7 separate regions of the Homo sapiens genome follow, and regions 1, 2, 3, 4, 5 and 7 are each reported to be linked to region 6. Evidence: microRNA targets listed by miRTarBase, many of them from high-throughput screens and not tested one by one. Region 6 holds a microRNA gene; each other region holds the end of a gene's coding sequence.
Evidence for each region. Region 6 holds the annotated microRNA hsa-miR-5011-5p (UAUAUAUACAGCCAUGCACUC, at 2,992-3,012, opposite strand). A microRNA usually pairs through its seed, bases 2 to 8, with sites in the 3' UTR of a target mRNA and lowers its output. Matches are read on the target gene's strand: a 7mer-m8 pairs with bases 2 to 8, a 7mer-A1 pairs with bases 2 to 7 and ends in A, and an 8mer does both.

Region 1: the mRNA of FUBP1 is a reported target of hsa-miR-5011-5p. Seed matches in the 3' UTR shown: 7mer-A1 at 967-973, 7mer-A1 at 2,248-2,254, 7mer-m8 at 2,249-2,255, 7mer-A1 at 2,442-2,448 and 7mer-A1 at 2,780-2,786.
Region 2: the mRNA of SOS1 is a reported target of hsa-miR-5011-5p. The part of its 3' UTR that is shown has no 7-base or 8-base seed match.
Region 3: miRTarBase lists TUBD1 as a target of hsa-miR-5011-5p. The part of its 3' UTR that is shown has no 7-base or 8-base seed match.
Region 4: the mRNA of CALHM5 is a reported target of hsa-miR-5011-5p. Seed matches in the 3' UTR shown: 7mer-A1 at 973-979, 8mer at 974-981, 8mer at 976-983, 8mer at 978-985, 8mer at 980-987, 8mer at 982-989 and 21 more.
Region 5: miRTarBase lists ARSK as a target of hsa-miR-5011-5p. Seed matches in the 3' UTR shown: 7mer-A1 at 2,858-2,864, 8mer at 2,856-2,863 and 7mer-m8 at 2,690-2,696.
Region 7: miRTarBase lists RBBP9 as a target of hsa-miR-5011-5p. Seed matches in the 3' UTR shown: 7mer-A1 at 2,955-2,961, 8mer at 2,953-2,960, 8mer at 2,951-2,958, 8mer at 2,949-2,956, 8mer at 2,947-2,954, 7mer-A1 at 1,303-1,309 and 1 more.

The regions. Positions count from the first base shown.
Region 1 is chr1:77,945,290-77,949,289 of GRCh38, reverse strand. It overlaps FUBP1 (far upstream element binding protein 1), which reads left to right. Exons shown (of 20, transcript NM_003902.5): 19 at 1-135; 20 at 516-4,000. The coding sequence ends at 524. Among named protein-coding and RNA genes, the nearest start is that of FUBP1, 32 kb to the left of the region's middle.
Region 2 is chr2:38,982,381-38,986,479 of GRCh38, reverse strand. It overlaps SOS1 (SOS Ras/Rac guanine nucleotide exchange factor 1), which reads left to right. Exons shown (of 23, transcript NM_005633.4): 23 at 165-4,099. The coding sequence ends at 656. Among named protein-coding and RNA genes, the nearest start is that of ARHGEF33, 95 kb to the right of the region's middle.
Region 3 is chr17:59,856,573-59,860,659 of GRCh38, forward strand. It overlaps TUBD1 (tubulin delta 1), which reads right to left. Exons shown (of 9, transcript NM_016261.4): 9 at 2,907-3,852. The coding sequence ends at 3,750. Among named protein-coding and RNA genes, the nearest start is that of MIR21, 17 kb to the left of the region's middle.
Region 4 is chr6:116,515,689-116,519,688 of GRCh38, forward strand. It overlaps CALHM5 (calcium homeostasis modulator family member 5), which reads left to right. Exons shown (of 2, transcript NM_153711.5): 2 at 1-4,000. The coding sequence ends at 301. All of the region lies in intron 3 of TRAPPC3L (trafficking protein particle complex subunit 3L), which reads right to left. Among named protein-coding and RNA genes, the nearest start is that of CALHM5, 6.0 kb to the left of the region's middle.
Region 5 is chr5:95,603,067-95,607,165 of GRCh38, reverse strand. ARSK (arylsulfatase family member K) reads right to left here. Exons shown (of 8, transcript NM_198150.3): 8 at 2,064-3,929. The coding sequence ends at 3,640. Among named protein-coding and RNA genes, the nearest start is that of GPR150, 15 kb to the left of the region's middle.
Region 6 is chr18:67,080,520-67,084,618 of GRCh38, reverse strand. It overlaps MIR5011 (microRNA 5011), which reads right to left and starts at 3,035; the gene lies at 2,933-3,035.
Region 7 is chr20:18,486,026-18,490,124 of GRCh38, forward strand. It overlaps RBBP9 (RB binding protein 9, serine hydrolase), which reads right to left. Exons shown (of 5, transcript NM_006606.3): 5 at 515-3,965. The coding sequence ends at 3,739. It also overlaps the pseudogene RPL21P3. Among named protein-coding and RNA genes, the nearest start is that of RBBP9, 9.2 kb to the right of the region's middle.

The DNA of each region.
Region 1 (4,000 bases), not on the chromosome of region 6:
CCTGCTCCGACTGGGGCTCCTCCAGGTGGTCAGCCAGATTATAGTGCAGCCTGGGCTGAGTATTATAGACAACAAGCAGCCTATTATGCCCAGACAAGTCCCCAGGGAATGCCACAGCATCCTCCAGCACCTCAGGTATAATGTAATTGCTAATTTGTTGATTTCTACTCCAGTCTGTTTTCTGCATGTTTACTGTTTGTCTGTTTGGGAGTGTTTGCCTTTTAAATTTTTATCTGGCAAAGTATAATAACTATTTAAATGAAGTACTACGGTGTATTGTTTGGGTTTTTTTGTTTTTTATAATGCTTTCCAGCATCTGAGTGGTGAATATTTCTGCAATGCCTTTGATTTTAAAAATAAATTTTCTTCCCCCAGGGATTTGCAAATCATGCAAGAAGCCACCACCATTTATATTAACCACTTTTTCTTTCTTAAAGGATTCACTCCTGAATTAGCTCCATTTCAAGGATTTTCTTTAACTTTTTGTGTATTTCTTATGTATCTCTTCTGCACAGGGCCAATAATAAGAAGTGGACAATACAGTATTTGCTTCATTGTGTGGGGGAAAAAAACCTTTGTTAAATATATGGATGCAGACGACTTGATGAAGATCTTAATTTTGTTTTTGGTTTAAAATAGTGTTTCCTTTTTTTTTTTTTTTTTTGAAAATGTACAAAATATCTATCACTACTGATAGGAGGTTAATATTTCTGTGTAGAAATGAAAATTGGTTTGTTTTTAGTATTTAGTGTAGATGTACACATTCCAGCAAATGTATTTGCAATTATGTGGTTGATGCTTTGTGATATAAATGTACTTTTTCAATGTATACTTTCACTTTTAAAATGCCTGTTTTGTGCTTTACAATAAATGATATGAAACCTCCTGTGTCGGTAAGTTGGATATGTGGGTATTTAAAGGATTCATAATTTCTTAGCAATGATAAATTAAGATACATATACACAAATATATAAGCTTTCCCCATGAAATATTGAGTTTTTAAACACTGGCATGTTTTTCCCCCCTTGCAGTATAGTGGTAGATTGGAGGATCTTTTCCATTTATTGTATTGGCTCTTTCAGCACAAGTAATCCTGATATCTTCATTTTTTTTCCTTCTGTTTGATTAAAAACTGCATGTGTGTACAATGATCTTTTGGCATACTTCCATTGCATTAACAGTGAAATTTCCTTTTATACATGACCACTGTTTCAGACCTGTACTGCTGCTATAACAGTTAACCTTTCTGTTCTTAATTTGATAATACTTGATTTCCAAGACTGTTTCGGCATAACTAATTTTAAACAGTTTTCAGATAGTGAATATGAGTAGTCTAATAAGAACAGTTTTTTTCCATGTGAAGCAACTCTTTCAATGTATATAATGTTAGTGTGTTTCTTTCTAAATTTAGGATAGAAAAGTGAATAGTGTGCAAAAAGTATAGCTACATTGCATCTGCCATTGAAACATAAATGGGGTATGGAAACGTTCAAGCTTTTTTTTTTTCTTTATGCAGTATAGATAAGCTTTGTTTTGTAAATGCACAAGTCCAATCATTGAATCAACTTAATTTTTTTATGTACTTGAAGTCATTTTATTACTCTTTAACACTCATGCTGAAGTTCTGATATTTTGTTGAAATCCATTGTTTTACTCTTTGCATATTTGTTGGCTCTTTGCATATTAATATATTAGACTACATGCAAATACAGTCTGTCTTGCCATTGTCTGTTGAAGTGCAGGTTTGATCCAGCCAGTATAGAACTAGCTCTGTAGGGGTGAGGAGGACTGTGCTGTGTATCATCCTTGATTGTGTTCCTTCAAGGAGCATTGCACTGTAAGTACATCAGAATGACAAATTGATGAACTGCAACAGTATCTTTTTGTCAATGTTCCACATAATGCAAATGCCATACGTTGTGTGAATATTATGTTGGAATACAGTGCTGATATCTTGGAAAACCATAACTGCCTCTTAATTTAACATAGAATAATACATAGTTCTGTATTTTTTTTAAAGTGAGCTTAATGGGTAAGTATTTTTTATATGCTTTAGCTATAGCTAAAGAAAACTGATACTTAACAAAGTTGAATAGTATTATTCACTGGTGCTCCTAAAATATTGTTTTTCAGTGTAAAATATGCATATCTTCTATATTTAATATGAAAGTCTTGAAATGTATCAGACAGAAGGGGATTTCAGTTTGCAAATAATGAGCAATGTAGCAATTTTAACACATTTCATAAATATATATTTTGTCATTGGTGGAGAGCACCATTTGTTGTTTTGAATATACTTTAAAGGAAGAGGTACAAGGACATAAATGTTGAGATTACCTACAGGATGGAAATAGCAGTACAGTTCATTGTAGATATTTTGAAATGTTTTTGATTGTTTTATATAACCTAGAGTGACTTCCCTTACCCTTATTTAGATCTGCATATATAGTTCTAGTATGAAGTTTAATAGTTAAGGAGTTAGCTATTTGTTATCTTTAAGAGTAGGGTATTGACGTGAACAATTGCAGTATTTTGCATGATACTGTTTTATAGATGACCTTTTAGGAAAGTGGTGCATTTATTAATTGAACTGAAGAAGTAGTTCAGTTGAATTCAGTATCATAATTCACAAATTGGAGGCTGTTGATTTTGATTCATTTAAGGTTTAAAATCTTTATTAATTGCAAACAGTGCAATTATTTATACTTCACAGTGCCTTCCCAGACCTTCCACCTTAGGTTCTGCTGCAAAAAGCACCAGGTAAGCACAACCTAAGGACATATATAAATAAATATTTCAATACATTAATGTTGTCCCTGTGAGGTTTTTGTGGTTGTGTATTCAAAGGCAATCTGCTACTGCTTCCCCAAAATGTATTTTGTTATTTTATGCTACCATCTTAGTGGAAAGTCTGTAAGTTGTTAAAGCAACTGTTTACATTTCTGGGTAATGTTTTTTATTTTACTTTTTTTTTTTTATTAAGACAAGAAAATGATGAGTAGATTGCTGCAGTAATTGAACTACATCCAAATCTTTTTGTATTTTTTCCCCAAATATAGAAGTGTTAATATTAAGAAAGGACAATTACACAGTTTTCAAGATTTAGGAAATCACTTGTTTAGAAACTTCAACAGCCTTCACAATCTGTTTTATATGATGGACAGAAAATTTCTTTGCCCTCCAAAATTATAATTTCTTTATTTTTTTCTTATTCTTAAACTATAATAATTCAGTAAGGATATTATGGGTTAGAATTTTATTATGATTTTTTTCTTAGACAAAAGTTATATGCTGAAGAAGGAAAAAGTTATAAGGCAGTATGTTTTGATAAAAGGCATGTGCATCAGTGAAATGTTAACTGTATAGCAAATAACCTTTCATAATCTGTAGCAATCAGTATTTTTCTGATTTAATAATATTTTAATAACTGACGCTGCATTTAATTTTTTTGCCAGTTTAAAATGTTTGTGTGTTTTTATAGATGATTTTAACTGGTACATATTTTGAGTTAAGTTGAATGTATGAAAGCAGCATCTTATCAGTTTTGTTTATTCGATTTCTAAAATGTGCTGATCCTTTTAAAACTCCTGCTTATCTCTGCAACAAAGAAAAATATTCAAAAATACTGCCTTCATTTTCACACACAGTGCTGAAGATGCTGCAAGCACCAAATCATAGCTCATAAAATCAGGTCCTGAGATAGTTACCCATAAAGAGGAATCCTTTGAGTGTATGCCATTGGTGAGCCGATGAGCATGGACCATAGAAGGGCTCAATGTAGAAGGTAAAATTGGCAAATCATAATTGAGAAATATGAAATGTATTCCCATACATAATATGGTATAGGGTGTAATGTACCTGCTTTTGATCACTTTTCATTTTAAAGTGCTATTCACTTGATCTTAAATGTTCCATGAACTGTTAAATTTCTTAAGTTACATAGTTACTACACCACATTTATGTGTATGTTATGTTTTAATAGTCAATGATAGGTATGTAC
Region 2 (4,099 bases), not on the chromosome of region 6:
AAAAAAATTTTTTTTTAATTAAAAAGAAAACATATGGCAAAACTCCCTGTTCCACACTTAGCATCCTGCCAATAGCATGTTTGAAAACCCCAACTTAATTCTTATAGTCATGATACTTCATAAATTTATTAATAAATGTGTATTTTATTCTTTTCATTTGTTAGATTATGTCTAAGCATTTGGACAGTCCCCCAGCCATTCCTCCTAGGCAACCCACATCAAAAGCCTATTCACCACGATATTCAATATCAGACCGGACCTCTATCTCAGACCCTCCTGAAAGCCCTCCCTTATTACCACCACGAGAACCTGTGAGGACACCTGATGTTTTCTCAAGCTCACCACTACATCTCCAACCTCCCCCTTTGGGCAAAAAAAGTGACCATGGCAATGCCTTCTTCCCAAACAGCCCTTCCCCCTTTACACCACCTCCTCCTCAAACACCTTCTCCTCACGGCACAAGAAGGCATCTGCCATCACCACCATTGACACAAGAAGTGGACCTTCATTCCATTGCTGGGCCGCCTGTTCCTCCACGACAAAGCACTTCTCAACATATCCCTAAACTCCCTCCAAAAACTTACAAAAGGGAGCACACACACCCATCCATGCACAGAGATGGACCACCACTGTTGGAGAATGCCCATTCTTCCTGAGTTCCTCTGTACTGGGATGTATATTTTCCTAGCCCCAAATCCATTGCTGGCAATGGATGCACTGAATGTGCCAGCACTGAGGAGTTAAAATGAGAACTCCAAACACTAACGACTCTTCTTCAAGATGCAGTATAAGACAATGAATTTTAACCTAGATGTAATTATACAATGGAAATGGTATTCCAGTTTAGAATATGGAAAGACCGACCTAGAGGAATTGGACAACTGATTGCACCTGAAAATCATAAAGGGACTTTTTCTGGCCAATAGGCAGGAGTCCTCTTTTTGTGAAGTGATCTTTTGTGAAGTGATCATTAAAGGGATGGAAAACACAGTCTAGTGTCCAGCAGGCCCACATGACAGTTTTTGTAATTCAAATTATGCACTTTTAAAAAAAAAAACTTAAACAGGGATCTTAATATCTTCCTTTGTTTTCCTTTGCTTTACTCTTCTACTTTAGAATATTTTCTTAAAAATCACTCAAAGGACTGTGAGGAAAGGCTGTGGTACCTGACCTTGTTGAAATCAAGGCCCGGCACTGTACTACAGGCCTGTTTACAGATTATTACGGTGAACTGAATGGGTACCGAGGCTTCACCAAAGAGGTACTTTTTTGTTGTTGTTGTTGTTTTAGGAATAATTGTACCAATTTTAAGAGCATTCCCCCCACCTGTCCCCACACACCCAAACAAAATGTGGTGGTGTTGCCTTCAAAAAAGAGAAGTTTTGTGTCATTAACATGACAGAAGAACTTTTTAAAAAAAAATAACTGTCAACTATTCTATTTGCATTTAGGAGACTGTTCATCTATGCTAGATTGTCATTTTCCCTCCTTCTCCCACAGAAGTTTACTGGTAGTCCATGTCATGGCTCGTAGCTATCCCTCTAACCATACCATGGAAATGCAGGCACCCAATGTGAAAAGGAGCACTTGCTGGGCATCACTGACACCGCTCATGTTTTACACATAGTTGAGTAATCAGCATATCTAGAATTATCTTGCATTGCCTAAATCATATGTATATAGTGAATGTTATATAATATACCTGGCAGGTCTGTTTTAATTTAATTGAATAAAGATACAAATACTTTGTTTGGCTGGCATATATTAAATTATTATATGAAGAAAATGGTTGATTCTTATTTCTTTTAGTTGAAAAACACACAAAAACACTAAACATAAAAGCACGTTTTGTGGTACGCCTTGGTTTCTAGTTCTGGATATATGTATTAATCTTAAAGAATGATCTAAAGTCACAGCTTGGCATATAGGAAGATACTTGGTTAGAATAGGATGGGTATCTTTTAAGCAGAACTTTGTAAGTAAGTTTTAAGTTCCTAAGCAACAAGTATACAGTTTGTTAAGGTTTATATTGAACATTCTACCTTGCTTGAGGTTTTCTGCTTTATCAAAACTATTCATAATAGAACATCTACCTGCATCATTACTATCATAATATGGATTATTCATAAAGCGTATGTACTGTTCTTCTGAGTCTAACAAATACTGTGACTGAAATGCATGCACCTTGTTGAAGAGAAAACATTTTATTAATCTCCACTATAATGTCTGTGAAATGTGCAGTATTCCATCCTTAGAGAGTTTATCTGGTTCATCAGCATCTGCATGTATCCTCTGAATAATGAAGCAACATTTCAGCAATTCTGTTAACCACACCATTAGAGACATTTTTAGAAGTGCTGCAACATGGTGGGAACCTAGTACTTTAATAATTTCCTATGATATTTATTAGAGCATAAAATGTACATCACGATAGTACAGTATGTAGTCCTTTAAGACCAGAAGGTATGTTAACTGCACCATCATTAAGCAGTCTATCCTATTTTCTTATTTATTTGTTAGAATTGAATCCTTTCTCAATATCTGTACCATTCCTATGATGGTAGCCATTCTTCTCTTTATAAAATATTTCCTCTTTGAAAAGCGTCCTAAAACATTAATTTCAAATCCCCTCTTGGATGCAAAGTGTCCCTAAGACCATCCATTCAACAGTATTTATGTGAGCCAACTTACTAGAGCCGCTACAACTAATCATGATAGACAGTCCAGAATCTCCCTGGACTTTATACTGGGCCAGCCTCATTGTCCCTAAGATTTCTCTTTTTATGTCTCATGGATTACTTCTCTTTTTAATTGCCCCAGGCACATTCCAAATGAGAACCTGGTAAAAGTCACATTGGACCCCCTTCAGTATGTCTTCGGCTAATGTGTTAGCCTTCAATAAGGTGATAACCCCTTTTCAACCTATCTAGTCTATAAAGAGGAAAAATTCAGATTTGGAGTTCTAATCCTATTTCTCCCAAAGGGAACTATTCTTCTACCCCATGGTTCTAGGAGACCACTTCACTGTGCAACAGTTTTACATGCATTGTGGATGGAGGATATTTTTATTCTGAACTGTTACATTTAGGTAAAAATATTTTCTGCAGTGGTAACTGATTAGAAAAATGCCAATTGGATGCCCTTAGGTGGAGGTGAGAAAATGGCATCCTTGCCTTCTTCTCAATATGAAACATTAACTAGTTGACAAATTTATCCTTGTAGTAATGAAAATCTATTTAATCAGGGACCAGAAATGGCTGAGGAGATAAATGCATCATTACAAAATTCTGCTTTTGAATCCTGGACATTACAAGGGGGTAAATGCAGCATGACTTTTTGTTAACCACATTCCAAAATGTGGAACATTTCTTTTAGAAATGAAAATATTTCAAGGCTGATGTATTTTAAGACTACACATTATCAGGAAACATACATTGAGAGTTCGCTTAATTAAAGGTTGTTGGGCATCAAATTATGTTTAGTAGGTTACTATTCTCTAACAACTCAAGGATGCTTTAATGGATCTGAATTTGACAAAGAGCATGCCACACTAATACTACAGTCAACAACAGCCCAGAGAACAATTACTATGTCAGCTGGAGGCTATATTATGATTCTAAATTCTTAAAGGTTTTTTTCCCTCCATAAATCAAAAATTACCTTATGTAAACCAAAAATTAGTTGGTATTTATGGTCATGATCTTAATTCTCAAGTTTAGCTTAATCTTGTATTTCATTGTTTGTCTTCTAATATGACAGCTTAAATTCAGATTTTTAAGTGACTCAGCAAAATAGGAGGAGTGTCCCAATTTATTAGTGTTGTACATATTGAAGAAAACCTTTTTGTTCCTTCAGATTTAGAAAGAAACAGTTTAACCATTTATTTCTTGGTATTCTGCTGCTGTGAATAGGTTTACTTATTCTTTTAACATATATTGTGTGACTACGCAAGTATAGGTCCTGTTGTATTGCATTAATCTTTACCAGTAACTAAACATCACAAGGTTAATATTGGTTTGGCTGAAAGAATTATGCAGTAAAGTTATTTATAAGGGAACATGATGACTTTATTCAATATTTTTCTTCTTTGAAACATCTC
Region 3 (4,087 bases), not on the chromosome of region 6:
GAGCTTGGGAGGTTGAGGCTGCAGTGAGCCATGATTACACCACTGCACTCCAGCTTGGGCAAGAGAGTGAGACCCTATCATCTCAAAAATAAAATAAAATAAAATAAATGATTGTTGGCCCAAAATGACAAGCTAGTGGTTAAAGCCATATTTGGTGGGTAGGTGGCAGAACAAGAAAGGGGTATCTGCTAAACTTTGGGCTCATGAGAGAAGATAGTGGGTTAGGGACATATGCAGTATGTTTTAAAAGAAAATTTTGGACAGGAATTCAAGTGTGATACACATGGTGGTCAGGAGAATCACTAGTATGTATACTGCAAAGTAGAGTTTATAGAGCCTACAGAGCCAGTGAAGAGACATTTCAACACTTAAGCCTAGCCCAGACCAGAGCTCTGAGTTCATTGTTCTTTCTTTCTTTCTTGGACCACATTCTTTCCTGGAAAAAAGGTGAATATGCACACAGGCAAGATAACAAGCAATAATTAGGAAGCTAGAATTGTAGCACTAAACATCCCAAAAAGCTTCTTCAGACAAGGTAGCATTGATCCCTGTATCCTTAACATCTTCCTCAGTGCCTGGCACTGAATAGATGATACTGGTTGAATGGATGAATTGGCTGATAATAGTGAATTGTTGGCATACTTAGTGAGTTCTAAGTGATGGGTAAAATATAGGAGAAAGATGTTGAAAGATGTTGTAGATTGAATAGTAAGGGTGGATAGGGGAGGGGAGTTTTCGGGGAGATCCCAGGGCTGGAAGTGGCGAATGCATGGGAAAAAACAGGTTCTACAGCTTAAGCTCTTGAGGAAAGATTGGGGAGGTAAGAGAGAAAGAGCTTGACAATAAGAAACAGTATGCATTCACACTGTGCTCATTGTCCACAGGGGTGCATTCTGGCTCTGCAGGATAATGTTTGACAACGTAATGTGCCAGTTATCCCATAATCTAAGAAATTACACTTTCAAAGTTTTCTGGATCTGTATGCCCAGGAGCTAAGGGAGCCAATGTTGTCCTCCTGGCTGACTGGCCATTATCTCCACACAAATCAAAGCACATTTCCAATGCCACTCCATCTGAAGTTTTGACATCAGCATCTTGGTGTTAATTTTTAACTTAAAATCACAACTTTAAGAGCAAAAATTTTGTTATTCCAAGTAGACAAGAAAAAATTATTTTCCATGTGAATGTTTTAACCCAAGCTTTAAAATATTTAGGCATTGGCCAGGTATGGTGGCTCACGCCTGTAATCTCAGCACTTTGGGAGGCCGAGGCAGGTAGATAGCCTGAGCCCAGGAGTTTGAAACCAGCCCAGGCAACATGAGGAAACTTCGTCTCTACCAAAAATACAAAAATTAGCTGGGCATGGTGGTGCACACCTATAGTCCCAGTTATTAGTGAGTCTAAGGTGGGAGGATTGCTTGAGCCTGGGAGGTTGAGGCTGCAGTGAGCTGAGATCATGCTACTGCACTCTAGCCTGGGTGACAGAGCGAGACGCTGTCTCAAAAAAAAAAAAAATACATACACACACACACACACACATATATATGTAATAGGTAACCATACATATCAAATAATGCAGTTGTGGATCATAAAAAAGGGTCAAATAGCATAAGTAAATGGACCCAGAGCTCTGTCTAGTTGGGATTTGCTTCTAATGTTCACCTGCTAATGATTCCACGAGTTGCCAAATTAGAAATATACTTGCCCCTATTGGTACCTCATGAATTTTCTCAAATATCAAATGATTTCAACTTACGACTTTCTTTCAAGTTAACTTCTAGTAAGGTTCCTCAGAATCAGATTAACCCCTGGTGAGATACTCAGTTACAGATCTTCATGAATGCTGGTTTAGTCTGGGAAATTGTTTCAGTCTGTGGATCTCTTCAATGCTTAAACAATTACTTTAACTTGTTTGGTAAAAATTATGATCTAATTATTTTTCAAGTGTACTTGGCTTAACGAAATGCAGCAGCGGGGTGTGCCTTTTAGCAGCAGAACCGACCACTTTTTACATTCCTTACAAATAAGATATGGTTCAGTATTTTAAATCATAGCAACAGTTGATAAGAAAAACAGCAAAAAGGTAATCATTTCCATATGGAAAGAAAAAGAAGAACCAGTGAAGCTGTGAACTGTCATTTTTCCATATAAAAGTCACTATTGGTAGATTTGGCAGAAAGGGCAAATGTTCCTATTTGTTAATCATTTTACATTTGTTAATATATTGCATGTGATGTGTTTTATGGAAATACAACATTCCCTTCAAACTCAGTTGTCAATTTCCAAGCACGTTTTGTCTTGGGTGAAACCCGTATCTTGTGCGTCAATTTCATCAAGTAACTATATTTCCTTGGTGATAATTTTCTCAACTTAGTGAAAAATTTAGGTGAAAATTCTTACCCCTTTTACTGAAAAGCATATAACCATCATCTGTACCAGCTGAATACCTATAAGTAATTTCATTCTTTTTTTTTTTTTTTGGAGACAGTCTTACTCTGTCACCCGGGCTGGAATGCAGAGGCACGATACCAGTTCACTGCAGCCTCGACCTCCCAGGCTCAAGTGATCCTCCCACCCAAACCTCCAAAGTAGCTCAGACCACAAGTGTATGCCACCACACCCAGCTAATTAAAATTTTTTTTTTTTTTTGGAGAGATGGGGGTCTTACTGTATTTCTCAGGCTGGTCTCAAACTCCTGGCCTCAAGTGATCCTCCCACTTTGCCCTCCCAAAGTGTTGGGATTACAGGTGTGAGCCACCATGCCCAGCCCATTATAAGTAATTTTAAAGCAATAATTGAATAAAATCAATATCTGCTCTGGCATTCCAAGATCCAAAACAAAATTTGAGCCAATTTTCTCATGCCCAAAAAGTTTAAGAAAAGCACACTAAGTACACATTTACCTATTTACTTTTGTACTTAAGCATAAGCATTTATTACCAAAATCCTCATATTTATTTTTAAATAGCTGCTTAGAGTGGAAACTTGCCCTGTTACAGAATATTCAAAATACATGTTCACACTGTAGCATTTGACAACATCTCCCTCCTGTGGTTCAAAGCATTCATTTCAAACATGAATATATTAAGTACAGAATTACAATTCCTTAGCTTGAAATTATGCTGTGAAAGTTTGGTTCATGCTTTGTGAGTTGTTTTTGGAGTTGTTTTGGAGTAAAGATTTAGGAACATGTAGACAAAGAGAATATTCTCTTTTCTTGGCTAGTTCCAGAGTCCCAACATTTCAGCAAAGTGTTTCCCCAAAGTTCTTTATAAAAGCACCATTTTTTTTTCTTACAAATGAAATACCAAGTGAATGTTTTCATTGAAAACATGCGATTCTCCATTTTAAAAAGTTTTCTTCCTTTTCTGTGGGCATAGTATGCAGAATAGACTCAGCATTCTACGTGGTTACTTTAACAGAATGGAACTTTGAAAACATTTTTTTTTTTTTTTTTTTTTGAGACGGAGTCTCGCTCTGTCGCCCAGGCTGGAGTGCAGTGGCGCGATCTCGGCTCACTGCAAGCTCCGCCTCCTGGGTTCACGTCATTCTCCTGCCTCAGCCTCCCGAGTAGCTGGGACTACAGGCACCCGCCACCGCGCCTGGCTAATTTTTTGTATTTTCTGGTAGAGACGGTGTTTCACCGTGTTAGCCAGGATGGAGAACTTTGAAAACTTTACAGAGAAAATAGTATTGAAAATATTTTAGTCCAGAAATGCCTTAAGGTATACTTTTCCCATTGTTCAAGATCAGAGATTACAGTAACTGGCAACAACCTGCTCTAATGACGTGAAACTGTCTAAAAAGTCCTCTTCTTCGATTCCAAATTTTGTGTACTGATGAATGTAGGCTCTGGTAGAAAAAAAAAAAAAACAGAAATTACAAAATAAAAAATGTCTGGCAAATGAGTAACTCTTAAACAATAAACAGACCTTTTCTAGCTGATGAACATTTGAAGATCACACAATCGTTCAGAAGTCTTACATTTGCTTTGTTTACTCCAAAGATTAGTGAACTTTCTTTTTTTTTTTTGAGACAGAGTCTTGCTCTGTCACCTAGGCTGGAGTGCAGTGGCATGATCTCGGCT
Region 4 (4,000 bases), not on the chromosome of region 6:
TCAGCTGAGTTTTTGGAAGACATATGCACAAAAGGAGAAGGAGCAGTTGGAAAATACATTTCTGGACTATGCCAACAAGCTGAGCGAGAGGAACCTGAAATGTTTTTTTGAAAACAAGAGGCCAGATCCTTTTCCCATGCCTACGTTTGCTGCCTGGGAGGCTGCTTCAGAGCTGCATTCTTTCCACCAAAGCCAGCAACACTATAGCACCCTCCACAGAGTGGTGGACAATGGTCTGCAACTTAGCCCTGAGGATGATGAGACGACAATGGTCCTTGTGGGTACTGCCCACAATATGTAGCTCATCCACCATCAATGACTCATGGTGTTGAGTGGCATGCTCATTCTGTGATCCTCCTAACGTATCACCAGCAACCTGTGTGTCTCTGTATTTTCTTACATTTGGAGTATGTTTACAAGACAATAACACAAAGGAAACTGCTTTGAAGCTCTCAAGTGGAACATCAGGATGTGCTCAAATTGATGCTGAGGGGTGACAAAGGTGCTCTTGCATTGGTGGAGAGGGGCTCAGTAGGCCTAAATGTTGCTCCAAGATCTAAGATTTTATCATTCAACAGACAGACTCATGTGAGAGGGCTCATCAGTCTCTGTAAATATTGGTTGCAGAATTTAGGGGCAGAAGCAATGGCTTGTGAGTGAGCAAGTTACTCTTAACATAGGTTGCCCTACACAGTGGCTCCTGCAGTGTGATCAGCAGGAGTCTCTGTCCTACAAATCTACACTTTTAAGGATGTATGAAATTGTGGAATTCATTCCCTCAGGATCTGAAGATCTCAGTTCTCAAAAATCACAAGTTGCAAGAATATGATACCTAAAATTGAAAGTTTTTCACATGTTTTCACTGTATACTGAAAATACTCCCCTGGAAGCAGGGCTGCATCATAATTTTTGTGGGCTTTATGTACTTTTGCCTTTGCGAACCATTTCCTACATTCAAAATAGTAGTAACAAATATATATATATATATATATATATATATATATATATATATATATATATACACACACACAGAAATATATATTTATAACTGCATTGATAAAAGGTGAATATATTAGCATTTTCTTCAACCTAAAAGTTTATGTATTTTCTTCTGATTTTAAAAGAAATTAAAAACATTTTAGTGGGCCCTTACAAGTATTATGGTCCTTAGGCACAGTGCTTACTAGGCCGTGGGTATGTCTTAGTGCGTTTGGGCTACTATAACAAAATATCATAGATAGGTGGCTTATACAAAATAGAAATTTATTTCTCACAGTTCTGGAGGCTGGGAAGTCCGAGGTCAGGCTGCCAGCATGCTCAGGTTCTGGTGAGAGCAATTTTCCAGGTTGCAAACTGCTTGCTGACTTCTCAGTGTCCTTCCATGGTGGAAAGTGCAAATAAGCTCCCTTGAGCATTTTTATAAGGCACTAATCCCATTCCTGGAGGCTCCACCTTCATGACCCAATTACTTCTCAAGGCTCTGCTTCTTAGTACTATCAGCTTGGGGGTTAAGATTTCAACATATGAAATTGGGGGAGACACAAACATTCAGACTATAGTAGGGTAAATTGACCTTGGCTAAAGGTCTGGGGACACTGTCCAAAGCAGTACTGGCATAAAACTGCATTGCAGTCTTACATTTATCAGAAATAATGCAAATCTTGCATTCTACAATGTACTATATCCATGTTAGTATGTACATATATATGTGTATGTATATATGTACATAAATTCTCCTTAAATCTCTGAGAAGAATTGTGCTTTAAAAAAGAACTATGTTTTGTGCTGTGGCTCATACCTTACAGTGGTAGTCTATGTCTCTTAGTTTGAGAAAGCTGAATATTAACTTCTTATTAACATGAAACATGATGGCAAACTGAATCCTACAAGTATAGGACCCAGAACATATCTATGTTATTGTCATTTACAAGAAGAAATATGTATTTGGTCTTTCTTCCTATTCCTGGTGCAGAGCTCCTAAAACCTTTGGGACCTCCCAAGTGATGTGTCTGGTAGTACGCGAATGAGATGACTGATAGTTAGGGGCTTCTGAATGGCCTCAGAATAGGGTCTGGTTGCCACGGGAACCAACCATGTGTTTAGAGGGTTGGAACTTTCAGCCCCACTCCCAGACCTTGGGGAAGGAAGAGGGGCTGAAGGTTGAGTCGATCACAAATGGATAATGATTTAATCAATCATGCCTAAGAATAAAGCTTCCCATAAAAATCTAAAGGACAAGGTTCAGAGAGCTTCTGCATTGCTCAATACATGAGGAGTGGTGAGCCCAAAGGGGCCGTGGAAGCTCCGTGCCCCTTCCCCCAAACCTGTTCCTGTGCCTCCATCTGGCTGTTTCTGAGTTATATTATTTTATAATAGACTGATGATAGTAAATAAAGCCCTTTCCTGAGTTCTGTGAGCTACTCTAGCAAATGGTGAAATCTGAGAAGGAAATCATGGGAACCTCTGCTTTGTAGCCACGTCAGATAGAAGATGTGAGTAACTTTGGAACCTACTGCTTGTGACTGGTGTCTGAAGTTGGGGGAGATCTTATGGGACTGAGCTCTTAACCTGCTGGGGATCTGCACTTAATGCCGATTAATGCCAGAATTGAATTGTATGATATCCAGTTGGTATTGGAGAATTGGCCAGTGTGGGAGAAAACCCACACAGTTGGTGGCAAGGAGTGTTCAGTGTTGAGTGTGAATGTCAATAAAAAAAGGTTTGTTTTTTCTACGTACAATATCTTTGGGAACTTGGAGGTGCAGGGTCAGACGTCTGTGTGTGTATGTGGCAGGGACAGAACAGGGATTAGGGATGTGAGGGGGTAGAGTTTTCAGAATAAAGGGAGAGAAAATTCAGCAAAGAGTTCTCCTTCTTAATCTTTCTTGACTTAAAGTTTGTCTGCCCTTAAGTGTCTTCTGAGCTGGAAAAAGACATATAGGAACTGGCCGATGCCGATGCCTCTTTTGCAGTGTGTGAGAGGCTGAAACAGAAGTTCTACAGAAGTAGGTTAGCTGTAAGGAGCTGAGGATTGAGGAGTCATATCTGGGGGATATTCCTGCCACCCTCAAGTCCAGGGACTTTCTGCACTCAAAAAACTTACGCTCATGACAATGACTGCCTCATTCAAGAAAACCCAAGCTGACTGGCAAGAAGCCAGCAGCCTGGGTACTTGTTGCTGCAGCTTAGTAAGTAGCAGAAGAGCTCATCCTCCTCCTCTGGAAGAAGCCACTTAACAGGTTCTCATCCTGACTCCTAAATTCCTTAACAGTCCTTTACTCAGGAATAAAACAAGTCCAAGAAAACTTATCTGTCCCACAAATAGTCCTGGAGGCAGTGGAGTAAGATAGGGAGAGCAAATTGGTGTCTGCTCTTGAGTATCTTGAGGGAATGGGTATCTAGAGGCAGCAGGATGAACTGGCTTTGATAGCAGAGACTTTAAAATGTGTGGACCATTAGTTGTCTTTGGATGTGCTCCCTAGAGGCTGCGCCTGACACAGGGAGCTGTGTATACATGATTTATTAAAAGGAAATCCTCTTAGGAGAAACATATTAGCAGGATAAACACAAGAAAGAATGCAGTTACAAGTGGAGTCTCAATCAATCCCAGAGGAAATTCTGGGACTTCAGCCTCAGCTTGACCTATGGGGGGGCTCTGGAATGTCAGATTTCTCCTGATCCCAAGTGTGCTCTGGGGCTTCCATTGCAGCCAAGAGAGAGCATTCCCCAGAAAACTCCAGGTGAGGAGTCTCCAGTGGCCCAAGGGTGATCCTCCAGAGGAGGTTACACTGCCGAACTGGGACATTGGCACCCTGGATTTGAATATCTAGAGAGGGCACCCAATGGTCATACTAATGTTTGCCATAACAGTCTCTTCTAGGTCTAGACTTGAAGCATATGGAAGGGTCCTTGGGCTAGAGCCAACCCAAGCCCAGGCTGACTCCCTTTTAATACTTCTAATTTTCCCTGAAGATCTGGTCTTCTCCCTACCACCACTACC
Region 5 (4,099 bases), not on the chromosome of region 6:
GCTTAAAACATGGCAGATGCTTGGTAAATTCTTACAATGAATGTGTATCTTAAAGGGTTTGGGTAGAATGAAGTAGATTTATCTTCACAAGCCTATTTTCAGGACCACATTTCTATTGTTATTGCTTTTCTCTCTATGATTAGCATATATACCCATACTTTAGCTACTTGTGTTCTTTAGGCTTATTTAGGAGATGGATGGTGGATTTGTATAGTTTAATTTTAACCTTAATACTCAGTCTTTCTTTTTAAGGGTTTCACTTCAGAATATGTGTGTTTGTGTATGCATGTGTATATACATATGTAATAAAAATCAGATATATTCAAAAGTAAAATCATTTCTCAGAAATTCATAATTGCAAAGGTAAGCTCATATAAATTCACTGAAGAACGATAAACAAATAAATAAAGGAGATGAACTTACTCATGAAGAAAACTTCAAAGACAGTTTGAAGAAGTATTAAGTTGGGTAAAATTATTTGCAGGTAAGATTTTTACTTGGAAAATAATATATCACTTGAAAAACTATTACTCACTATGAAGTGATTCAGCATAAAATAAATATATGGAAATGGAGTGCACATATAAACAAGAAGATCTTCTCTTAGAGGATATAATGGAAGGAAGATTCACTTAAAATCACAATAACTGATAAAACAACTGGAAATAAACCCACCTCTGGCTACATATTAGAATCATGGCTGGAGGGATTGACCAGCAAGACAACAATAATAGCACAGCAGGCCCAGGCTGTCTCAGAAGCTCTAATCAAGTGGTGTAGTGTAGAGCCTAGGGGGGTATTTTTTAAAGTCTCTGCTTTTCAAAAATTTTTCCGGACAAATTGATCTATATGAAGAAAACTTAGACTACTACTGAGGGATATAAAAGAAGACTTGAATAAAGGGAAAAACATGCTAATTATTTAGAATAACTATCATAAAGAATTAAATTCTCTCTAAAGTAGGTTATACATTTAATGATTTCATTTAAAAGCCAACAGGACTTTTCATTTTTGTTACTACACAAACTTATTCTAAATTTGTATGGAAAAATCAAGAGTTGCTAGGAAGGACAATTCTGAAAAAAGAAAACTATTGCAAAGGGACTAGTCCTACCAGATACTGTCTACCAGACTAATAAAATAGACTGGTCTGGCTGGGTGTGGTGGCTCATGCCTGTAATCCCAGCACTTTGCGAGGCTGAGACAGTCAGGTTGCTTGAGTGCAGGACTTTAAGACCAGTCTGGGCAATGCAGTGAAACCCTGTCTCTATAAAAATTTAAAAAATTAGCTGAGTTTTGTGGCGCGTGCCTGCGGTCCCAGCTACTAGGGAGGCTGAGGTGCGAGGATCACCTGAGCCTATGAGATTGAGGCTGCAGTGAGCAGTGATTGTGCCACTGCACTCCAGCCTGAGTGACAAGGGAAGACCCTGTCTCAAAAAAACAAAAAACAAAACAGAAACAAAGAAAATAGAATGGTCCAGTGGAAAATAAAATGTTCAGAAATGGCATAAGTATAAATGGGACTTTGGTATAGATAAAAATGGCATCGCAAATCAATGGAGGAAAAGATAATGTACTCAACCAAAGGTATTATATGATGAAGTGACATTTTTACGAATGGGAGAAGAGACAGTTTACTCAATAAAAGATCAATGGGTAGGCATATTTAAAAAAACAACCAAAGTTAGATTTCTAATATGTTTAATACATTCCAGCTGGGTCAAAGATCCAAAGGTGAAAAATAAAATTATAAAAGAAGACAAGTGGAGGCCAGGCGCAGTGGCTCACGCCTGTAATCCCAGCACTTTGGGAGGCCTAGGTGGGCAGATCACCAGGTCAGGAGATCAAGACCATCCTGGCTAACACGGTGAAACCCCATCTCTACTAAAAATACAAAAAATTAGCTGGGTGTGGTGGCGGGTGCCTGTAATCCAGCTACTTGGGAGGCTGAGGCAGGAGAATCACTTGAAACCGGGATTGCACCATTGCACTCCAGTCTGGGTGACAGAGCGAGACTCCGTCTCAAAAAAAAAAATGACAAGTGGAGAAGGCCATTCTAAATATGATACAAAATCCCAAAAGCCACAAAAGCAAAGATCTGTAAATTTTGTACTAATATTTTTAATTGACAAATCATAATTGTATATACTTATGGTGTACAAAGATTCATAAATTTGCTTACATGAAAATAAAAATTTCTACATATCAAAAAATACCAGAACAAAGTCAAAAGACAAATGACAATGACAAACTGGAAAGAAGATATTTGCAGGATCTCTTACAAAAAGCTAATATCTAAAGCACACCTGTAATACAAAACAAAGACCAACAACCAACAGAAAAATAGGCAAAGAATAGAAATAGGAAAGGCCATGGTAAAGCAGATTCCAGTGGCTGTTAAATACATGAAAATATGCTCTACGTTACTCATAAAAAGAAAAATAAAAATAGAACATTTTTATCTGTTAGGTTGGCAAAGGATAAGAAGACATGCATTGATGGTGAGATTATCAGTTAGTATACCTTCTTTAGAGGTAATTTGTAGTATCTAGTGTAATTTTGCTAAATATAGTCTTGACTCAGTAATTTCACCTCTAGATATCTACTGTTAAGTGAAAAAAAAAAGGAAAAAGAAGCAACATGCAGAACAATGTGTGCAGTATGTTACCGTTTGTGTAGGGGGAAAGGAATATATACATTTGTTTATAAATTTGTGGCCAATCTCTAAAAATGCGTAAGCAGGTGGTTTCGGTACTTGCTTCTTGGAGGGGGAACTGGATGGCAGGGAAGAGGGAAAGGACAGAGACTTCACGATCACTGTTAACCCTTTTGTACCATTTGAAGCTTTTACCCTGTATATATATTACCTATTAAAATAAAACAGTAACAAAATCAGGTACATCCAGGGTTTACATCCCGTTAAATACTCCAAATACTCCCATTAAATACATCCAAACAATCCCATCAAATACAAGTAACTCATCGAGCACCATCAAATGCTCACATACAACTATTTTATGATACATATTATTACAATATTTTATATTCTCTATTATTTAAAGGAACATAACTGTTACAGTATTTGCTTCAATTCTTTTGATACTTCCACTAAATTGTTAGAAATTGTACAAAGGCCTAAATAATAACCATTTTTGAAAATATGTGATTTTATAATCATTGGCATTTTATCTTAAAATACACTACATTCTTACAAAATAATGAAAAATTGGTAATTATTATTATTTTATTTTTATTTTTTTGCGACACAGTCTCACTCTGTTGCCAGGCTGGAGTACAGTGGCGCAATCTCAGCTCACTGCAACTGCTGCCTCCCGGGTTCAAGCGATCCTCCTGCCTCAGCCTCTGAGTAGCTGAGACTATAGGTGTGCACCACCGCGCCCAGCTAATTTTTGTATTTTTAGTAGAGACAGGGTTTCACCATGTTGGCCAGGATGGTCTCAATCTCTTGACCTTGTGATCTGCTTTCCTCAGCCTCCCAAAGTCCTGGGATTACAGGTGTGAGCCACTGTGCCCGGCCAAAACTTGGTAATTATTAAAACTGTTTCATTTAAAATACATAATTATGATCTTGTAATATATTTATATGTATCTCTAGAACACTATTTTTAAACTTTTTGTTCAAACTGCTCTTGGATTCATATGGGTTTTAAGCCACTGATCAATTGCATTTTCATACTTCCTTGGTTCCTTCTGCCAGTCTTGGTGCCACCTAAGATTTGCTATAACGTTTGAATAATTCTGTCCTATACTTTGTTTCCACTTGATAAACTGCTCTTTATTATACTGGTGGACAGAAGCAGAAACTTTAGGGTAGTTTATAATGGAATGAAGCTTCTGATCCAAAGAATAAGTAATTTCTGGAAATTTTACAGCAACATTTGTTAATTCATCTGGATCCGAGGAAAGATCTGAAAGAAAAAAAATAAGTATCTGTCAAAATAGTGACCTGCTAAAAATTTTTTTAGAATGTCATTATGACAGGTAATGTATTAGATTTTTTTTTTAGATTTTCAGTTCCTGTTAGTGTAGTAAAATGAAGGACAGTATAAATGGTAAAATAACATACCAGGAGTTAAAC
Region 6 (4,099 bases):
ACTTATGGAATTCACTAGAGAAAAATATCCAATAGAACTACCTTTTTTGTTTTATCTTGTTTTTGGAATTCTACTTTAATGGCAGGAGCCAAATGACACATTTTCTCTATTCTTTGAAGAAAAAAAAGAATGTCTTAATTAACAGAATTAACAGAAGAATTGTAAAGCAACAACAAAATCATGCATGTAGATATTGAAAAACTGTCAACAGAGTCATTGACAGGCCCAGACTGTGAGGAATCTGTGGAATATGTAAAGCAAAGGAGGTCAGATTCACAGCATAATTAAACTGAGCTAAGGAACATTCCATTCCAAAAAAATAGTAAAGTTAATTTTCCAAAAAGAGATAATGTGAAAGAATCTATAAAATGAGGGCCAGAGCCTTAAAGAAGAACACTATGAGGCATCTAGCTGGTTATCGTATTTAAAAAAACACAAAGTTTCTGCATAGAAAAAGAAAACAATCAACAAAGTGAAGAGACAACCTATAGAAAGAAAAAAAAATTGCATACTGTTTATTTGGCAAGGAATTTGCATATCCAAAATATACAAGATACTCAATTACAAATCTATTAGATATCTCTAGATATAAATATATATGTATATAATTTATAAAATGGGCAAAAAAAATCTGAACAGACATTTCTTAAAATAAGATATAAAGATGGCCAACAGATACATGAAAAACTGCTCAACATCACTAATGATCAGGGAAGTGTATATAATAGAATGGCTATAATAAAAAGAAAAAAAGCAGCCAGGCGCAGTGCCTCAAGCCTGTAATCCCAGCACTTTGGTAGACTGAGGCTGGCGGATCACCTGAGGTCAGGAGTTCGAGACCAGCCTGGTTAACATGGTGAAACTCCGTCTCTACTGAAAATACAAAAAATTAGCCGGATGTGGTTGCACGTACCTGTAGTCCAGCTACTTGGGAGGCTGAGGCAGAAGAATTGCCTGATCCCAAGAGGCAGAGGTTGCAGTGAGCCAAGGTCACGCCATTGAACTCCAGCCTGGGCAACAGAGCGAGACCTGATACTCTGCCTCAAAAAAAAAAGTAACATGCTGGCAAGGATGTGGAGAAAAAGCAAGTCTTGTGTTTTGTACACTGTTAATGGAAATGCAAATTAGTTCAGTAATTATGGAAAATAGTATGGAAGTTCCTCAAAAAACTAAAAATAAAACCACCATATGATATAGCAATCCCATTACTAGGTATTTACCCAAAGAAAATAAATCAATTATAGAAGACGTATCTGTATCTCCATATTTATTGCAGCACTATTCGTGATAGCCAAGATAAGGAATCAAGCTAAATGTTCTTTAAAAGATGAACAGTTGAGGAAATTGTGGCATATATATACAATACAATAATATCCAGTCATGAAAAATAAAATTCTGTCATTCTGCCATTCACAGATAAACCTGGAAGGTATTATGTTAGGTGAGATAAGTCAGGCACAGAAAGATAAACACTGCATGTTCTCTCATATGTGGGAGTTAAAAAATGAGCTTATAGAAGTATAGAGTAGAATTATGGTAATCACAGTTTGATAATGTTATTAAAGACAGAGAAAGGTTGATTAATGGATACAAAGTCACAGCTAGACAGGAGGAATAAGTTCTAGTGTTCTATAGCACTATAGGGTAAGCATAGTTAATAATAATTTATAGTGTATATTAAAAAAACTAGAAGAGATTTGGAATATTCCAAACATGAAGAAATGATAAATGTTTGAGGTGATGTTTATCCTAATTACTCTGATTTGATCATTACACTTCATATACATTTATCAAAATATCACTCTGCAGATTATAAATACATACAATTAATATGTGTAAACTAAAATGCAAAGGAAGAAAAACCCAACAAAGCAATTTCTCCACACGTTACCTAATCCACAACAAATGGCTTCTGAAGTTTACCTCAAGTAAAGGCCATAAATATGACTCTTTAAGGTAGAAATCTTAGAAGTAAGAGTTACTTAGCTTAATGCCCTCTAGGTTTATCCATATGTATTTCATTGTAGTGTTAGTAGCAATAAAGTATAGAAACGACCTAATTGCTCATTGAATGGTGACTGATAGTGTTACATATACAGCCATGCACTGTGTATTGCATCAGTCAACAAAAAACCACATATATAAATGTGGTCCAATAAGATTACGATACTGTGTTTTTAGTGTAATTTTTCTTTGTTTTGGTATGTTTAGATGTACGGATGCTATTGTGTTACAATTGCCTATAGCATTCAGTATAATAATAAGCTATACAGAGTTGTAGCCTAGGAGATACAGTCTATGTCATATTGTCTAAGTGTGTAGTACGTTACACTGCTGTGGGACAGGCAAGGCCCCAAACTGGGGCTTAGCCAGGGAGGATTTCTTGCTTAACCCCGGAAAAAATTCAAGGATGAGCTAGGAGTCTTAGCAATCGTTTATTGAATGGTACTGCTCCTTGCAGAGCAGGGCTAAATCATAGGCAGTGCAATCAGAGTCAGCAACATATGGTCTCTTGGCAACGGTATTTATACTCAGCGAGACCCACATTCAATTGCATGCAAATTGAGGGGTGAGCCAATGCAAATTGAGGGGCAGGTTGTTTAGAACTTTCTAAGGCAGGTCAAATGCATGCAAATTGAGGGGTGAGCCAATGCAAATTGAGGGGCAGGTTGTTTAGAACTTTCTAAGGCAGGGGCAGTAACTTTTAGGTTGTTGCCATGGAAAGAGGTGGTAACTTCTGGGTTGTGTTGCCAGGCTGCTCATATTGCTCATTAGCATAAGACACTACCACCAGCACCATGACAATTAAATTGCAATGAGTAGTTAGAGATTGCTTTTGTTGACATCTGCCACTTCCTATCAGTTTCTTCACTTCATGCTCTCTGGCCAGATCCTGTTTTGGTTAGCAGGGTTGTGACCAAAAAAAAGTCCTGCTGAAAGATGAATGGATAGTGTTATATATACAGCCATGCACTGTGTACCCAAACTACAGAGTGCATGGCTGTATATATAACAGCATCCACTCAATACCATCTAGGTTTGGATAAGGACACTCCATGATGTTCAAACAATGATAAAATTGCCTTAAGGTACATTTCCCTGTTAAGCAATGCATGACTGTGTGTGTGTATATATGTATATGACCATGAAATATTATTCAGCCTTAAAATAGAAGGGGATTCTGCCATATGAGGCAACATGAAAGAAATAAGTTCTATTGTTGGGGGTGAATAGCCATGAGAGTGGAGAAGGCCATCAGTTAATCCATGGTTTGTGGCATTGGCCAAGCATGACAAGCAGTGAAACCATATTCAAATATGGAATCAACTTTTCTGACGATGACAACAAACAACTGTTGGCTTTACTATACAAGTCAGAGGCAATTGTAAGGCTCTTTGTTGTTTAATGCCCCACAGGTAAAACTTTTCTGTCCAGGGAATATTCTAGAGCAATACTGTGCAAGAGACCATTGTGTGATAACACGTGTTCTACCCTTGCATAGTCCAATATAGTAGCCTGTAGCCACATGTGCCTTTGAGTATTTCAAATACAGCTAACACAATGGAGGGACTGACTTTTTAATTATTTTAATGTTTAGTTAATTAAACATTAAAATTAACTTTAAATAGCCAAGTGTAGCTCCAAGAAACATCTGGAGCTACCAGGAACTGGAAGAGATAAGAAAGAATTGTCTCCTAGAATCCTGGATTAAATGCAATCCTGCCGACACCCGAGTTTGAACTGGCTTCTAGAACTGGGGGAGAATACATTTCTGTTCTTTTAGCCATTTGTTTTATGCTAATCTGTTATGGCAGCCTGAGGAAACTAAAACAGATGGCTTCGGGGAGAAATTTGAAACAGAAGCAAGAAGTAAAAACAGTAAGAAACAAACAAGTATGTATTCATCACAGAGGTACAGAAATTAACCATCAAATATCCCAGGCCCTAGGGGAGGAAGTGCCACGGTGGCAGCAGCGCTATCTCATCAGACTGTTCCTGTGGGGGGATTTTACTGCCATTCTGGAACCTGGTTTCCATGGGGCTGCCCTGTTCTGAGCCTGTTTCTTTAGCCTTCCAATAATTATATGATTTATCCAAT
Region 7 (4,099 bases), not on the chromosome of region 6:
CTTATTCCGTATGAATTCATGGCATAATAAGTGTTAATAAAAGATCTCTGGACTGTAAAAAATTATATATATAAATATATATAAATATAAATATATATATAAATATATATAAAAATATATATGTAAATATAAATATATATATATGTAAATATAAATATATATATATATATATATATATATATATATATATATATATATATATATATATATATATGAAGGATCTGGGAACCTGAAACTACAGACAGAGGGTTTCTCTTCCACCCTCAGTGAGAGTTGGAATGGTAAGAACAATGTCTGTCCTTCCTGGGACTTGGCCTATCAAAAAGGCACTAGTTTTATGTAGTAAGAAAAATGAACTTGGAAGAGAGCTAGAAATGAGAAGAAACCAGCTTGTATGTTTTAAATATAGACTTTGTCTTATGTCTTTATAGCTAAAGATTGGTTTTTAGAGCTTAACATTCAATGGCTAAAACAAAAGTATTCCTTACCTCACCAATAAAGAGAAACTTCAAGCTTTTTTCCCATGGTATGTTTTTAATTCTGAAAATTAACTGAAGGAGACAAGAGACAATTTAAAATTACAGCACCTCTGATGAATAGTTAAATGGATCATTTATCCTACAGGGATAAACTGTAACCAAAACAGATTGTGGGGCTCTAGACTCCGGACAGCACCAAAAATTCAAGTTGCATATGAAGTCCTAATACTTACAGTTGATTTCCATTCAGTATTCGGTATTTTGCTCACCTGAGAATAGATACTCCCCAGAGTGTATAGAGGCCCCTGTATATTCAATGATGACCACAAAGAATCAAACAGAAATCAGAAATGACAGTCCATGGCTCTATGGTTTTTAATGAATAGTTTGTGTAGATTTTCCCATGAAACACCCCTGATCTTAGTTGGGTGATTTATAGACCTATGATGTTGGTGGTGATCAGCTAAGCAAACTAGCCAAACAGAAGTAATTTCAAATTAAGTCACTTTTACTTTGTGCTATTACTCATTATTGGATGGTGGGTGAGGGGAAAATACAAAATATATGTCCTAGACCAATGTTGTCCAATAGAGCTTTCTATAATGACGGAAATAGCCTATATTGGCTGGTCAGTAAGGTAACCAATAGCCACCAGTGGCTGTTGAGCACTTGAAATATGGCTAGTTTGACTGAACTGAATTTTCAATTTTACAGCTAGCTGTGGTTACTGGTTACTATATTTGGCAGCAAAGTTCAACAATCCTATAGGTCTATCTTAATTACTTTTATAGGAATGAAGAGTATCAGAATTATTTCTCAATTATATATATTTAGTTTTCATTTCTACAGAGAAAGAGGTCAACAAAGTTTTGTGAACTAAATTGTATAAGTTTCTTTTTTAGGAAAGGACTTCACAGAGAACAAGGCAAAGAATAAGTAATACAACAGCAAATTTCCAAAAAATTCAAGTAGAATCAAACTTTGACTATAGATTTGGTCAAATTAGTGCTAAACAGCCTCTTTAACAACATTATTATTCAACTGATTTATATAATTTGCTTTTTAGTAGTCAAATACATTGTTTTAAATCTTAATTATTTTTGATTATAAAATACATGCTTAGTGTAACAAATTCAAATAATCAGGAGGATAAAGTAAAATAAGGGGCCGGGCATGGTGGCTCATGCCTGTAATCCCAACACTTTGGGCGGCTGAGGTGGGTGGATCACTTGAGGCCAGGAGTTCGAGACCAGCCTGGCCAACATGGTGAAACCCTGTCTCTACTAAAAATACAAAAATTAGCCAGGCGTGGTGGCACATGCCTTTAGTTCACACTACTTGGGAGGCTGAGATGAGAATCACTTGAACCCGGGAGGTGCAGGTTAGAGTGAGCTGAGATTTGTGCCACTGACCTCCAGCCTGGGAGACAGAGCAAGACACTGTCTCAAAAATAATAATAAGGACGTCCACCACACTTTACCTACCAAAATGCCCATTCCCCAAAGATGATTGCTGTTGAACGATTAGGGTACCTTTCCTGATTTTTTTTGTCTAAGCACATTTAAAAACCAAGACTTTTGGTTTTGAGCGATAGCTCTGAATCTCCTTTAGGTATGAAGTGTAGGAAATTGTATTTCTGCAGCAAACTTAGGCTTTGCAACATCAAGTGTGGATTCACTGGAAATTATTTGAAGGAACACATAGCGATCATAATAGCCAAAAAATGTTGGGAAATGAAAAAGGGTGGGTTTTTTTAATTAAAAAAAAATTTTTTTTTTTAAGAGACAGGTTCTTCGCTCCATCACCCAGGATGGAGTACAGTGGCGCGATCATAGCTCACTGAAGGCTCAAACTCCTGGGCTCAAGCAATCCTGCCTCAGCCTCCCAAGAAGCTAGGACTACAGGTGTGCACCACCATGCCTAGCTAATGTTTTAATATTTTGTAGAGATGGGGTCTTGCTGTGTTGCCCTGGCTGGCCTCAAACACCTGGCCTCAAGCAATACAACCACCTCAGCCTCCCACAGTGCTGGGATTACAGGCATGAGCCACCACACCCAGCCAAAAAAAGGTTTTCTGAGGAAGTATGATCAGAAGAAAATGGAATGTGCTTGAAAGAGATCTAAAGGGCCATGGAAGTTAAAAGGTTTAACTCTATAGAACAGAACACGAAGTATGGAAAGGTTCTTTTTAAAAACACTTGTCTTTTGGAACAAAATCCAAATTGTCCCCATGATTTCGTCCTTTGACATTATGTTCATCTTGGTTATCTTAGTCTTTTCTCAGACTTCACAGACAATTATCTAAAAGCCCCTGGCTAAGTGAATGCTTATGACTGTGGTCACAAATGGATGGCTTGGATTTTATTTGTCTTGCAGTGTTTGTAAATTTTTTGATGTATACTGTTATTGCCAACTTACATACTCCATATGTATATGGATTGTATGTGTATGTGTGTGTGTGTGTGTGTATATATATATATATTTGCATTCCCCAAATTTAAAAACTACAATTTGGAGATTTTTTTCCACACAAAAAATCAGAAAATTGGCAACACTCTGCCCCATTTCCACATGGCAACAATTTAGACAGGCCATGAGCTCTCCACATGGCTCTGATCCCACCACTCTTGTCTCAAACAAATCTAGTCAGTTGTACGTATATTATGAATGTATATTGCTGTGCTTCTCCTTCCTGCCTGACTCCGGAAGACTCCTGTCTCAGTCTCTCTCAACATGTCTGAAGGACTTAGGGGCAAGTGTCAGAGGTGAAGGCCCTAGTCTGAGTTTAATGTCTGGGGCCAGCTTGAAACAGCAGCTAGTATTTTGAGCTCTAAGCTAACACTCTGGACTTTCAGTCATGTTTTCTTTCCCCAGTGAAATAGAAAAGTTTGATTTCAAAGAGGAAAAGTGTGCAATACCTGCAACATACATAAAACCTATTTAATTTTACTCAGGAGTGGGAATCAAGAAACCTGGGTTCTGTTTCTGACTCACTTCGGATAGAGAAGGGTAGTTAAGCTGTCCTTATGTTTCTTATCAAATGAGGAAAATACTGTGGTAGTTCATAGCAATTTGGGGAGTTTTAGAGTCTATGGAAAATGGAAGTGCTATTTGTAACTTAGATTGAATGTTGAAACTTGTGTTTGTTTTTCAGGCACTTACGGAACTTAACTGGATGTTCTATGTGTCTAGTAATCAGCTGATAGTAGATATTATTCTACTCCTATATTGGGATGCAAAATAGCAGAAATCATACAGTCTATGCTGGTACTTTCAGCAAAGACTTTACAACAGTAATCAGTTCATGAAACTCTGTGTTCTGAAAGTGGCCACAGTCAGTGAATTTGTGCAATTTGGTTTCCAACCTATCGGCCACTTCTTGTTGTTCCTTCCAGGGAAGGAACGGGTCGTCAGTAGAGCCAAACTGCACAATGTAAGGGCAGTTGGCCTTGATCTTCTCCCACTGCCAGGGGCGGGTGAAGTATCCTATGGGGAAAAAAAAATGATCTTTCAGTACCCATGGATAATCTCCCTTCTAGATATTCTAAAATACCTACTGGCGACCCACATAGAGACGCAAAGGAGCAGAGCCTCCGTGTGAGTTAGAAGCACTTCTTTTG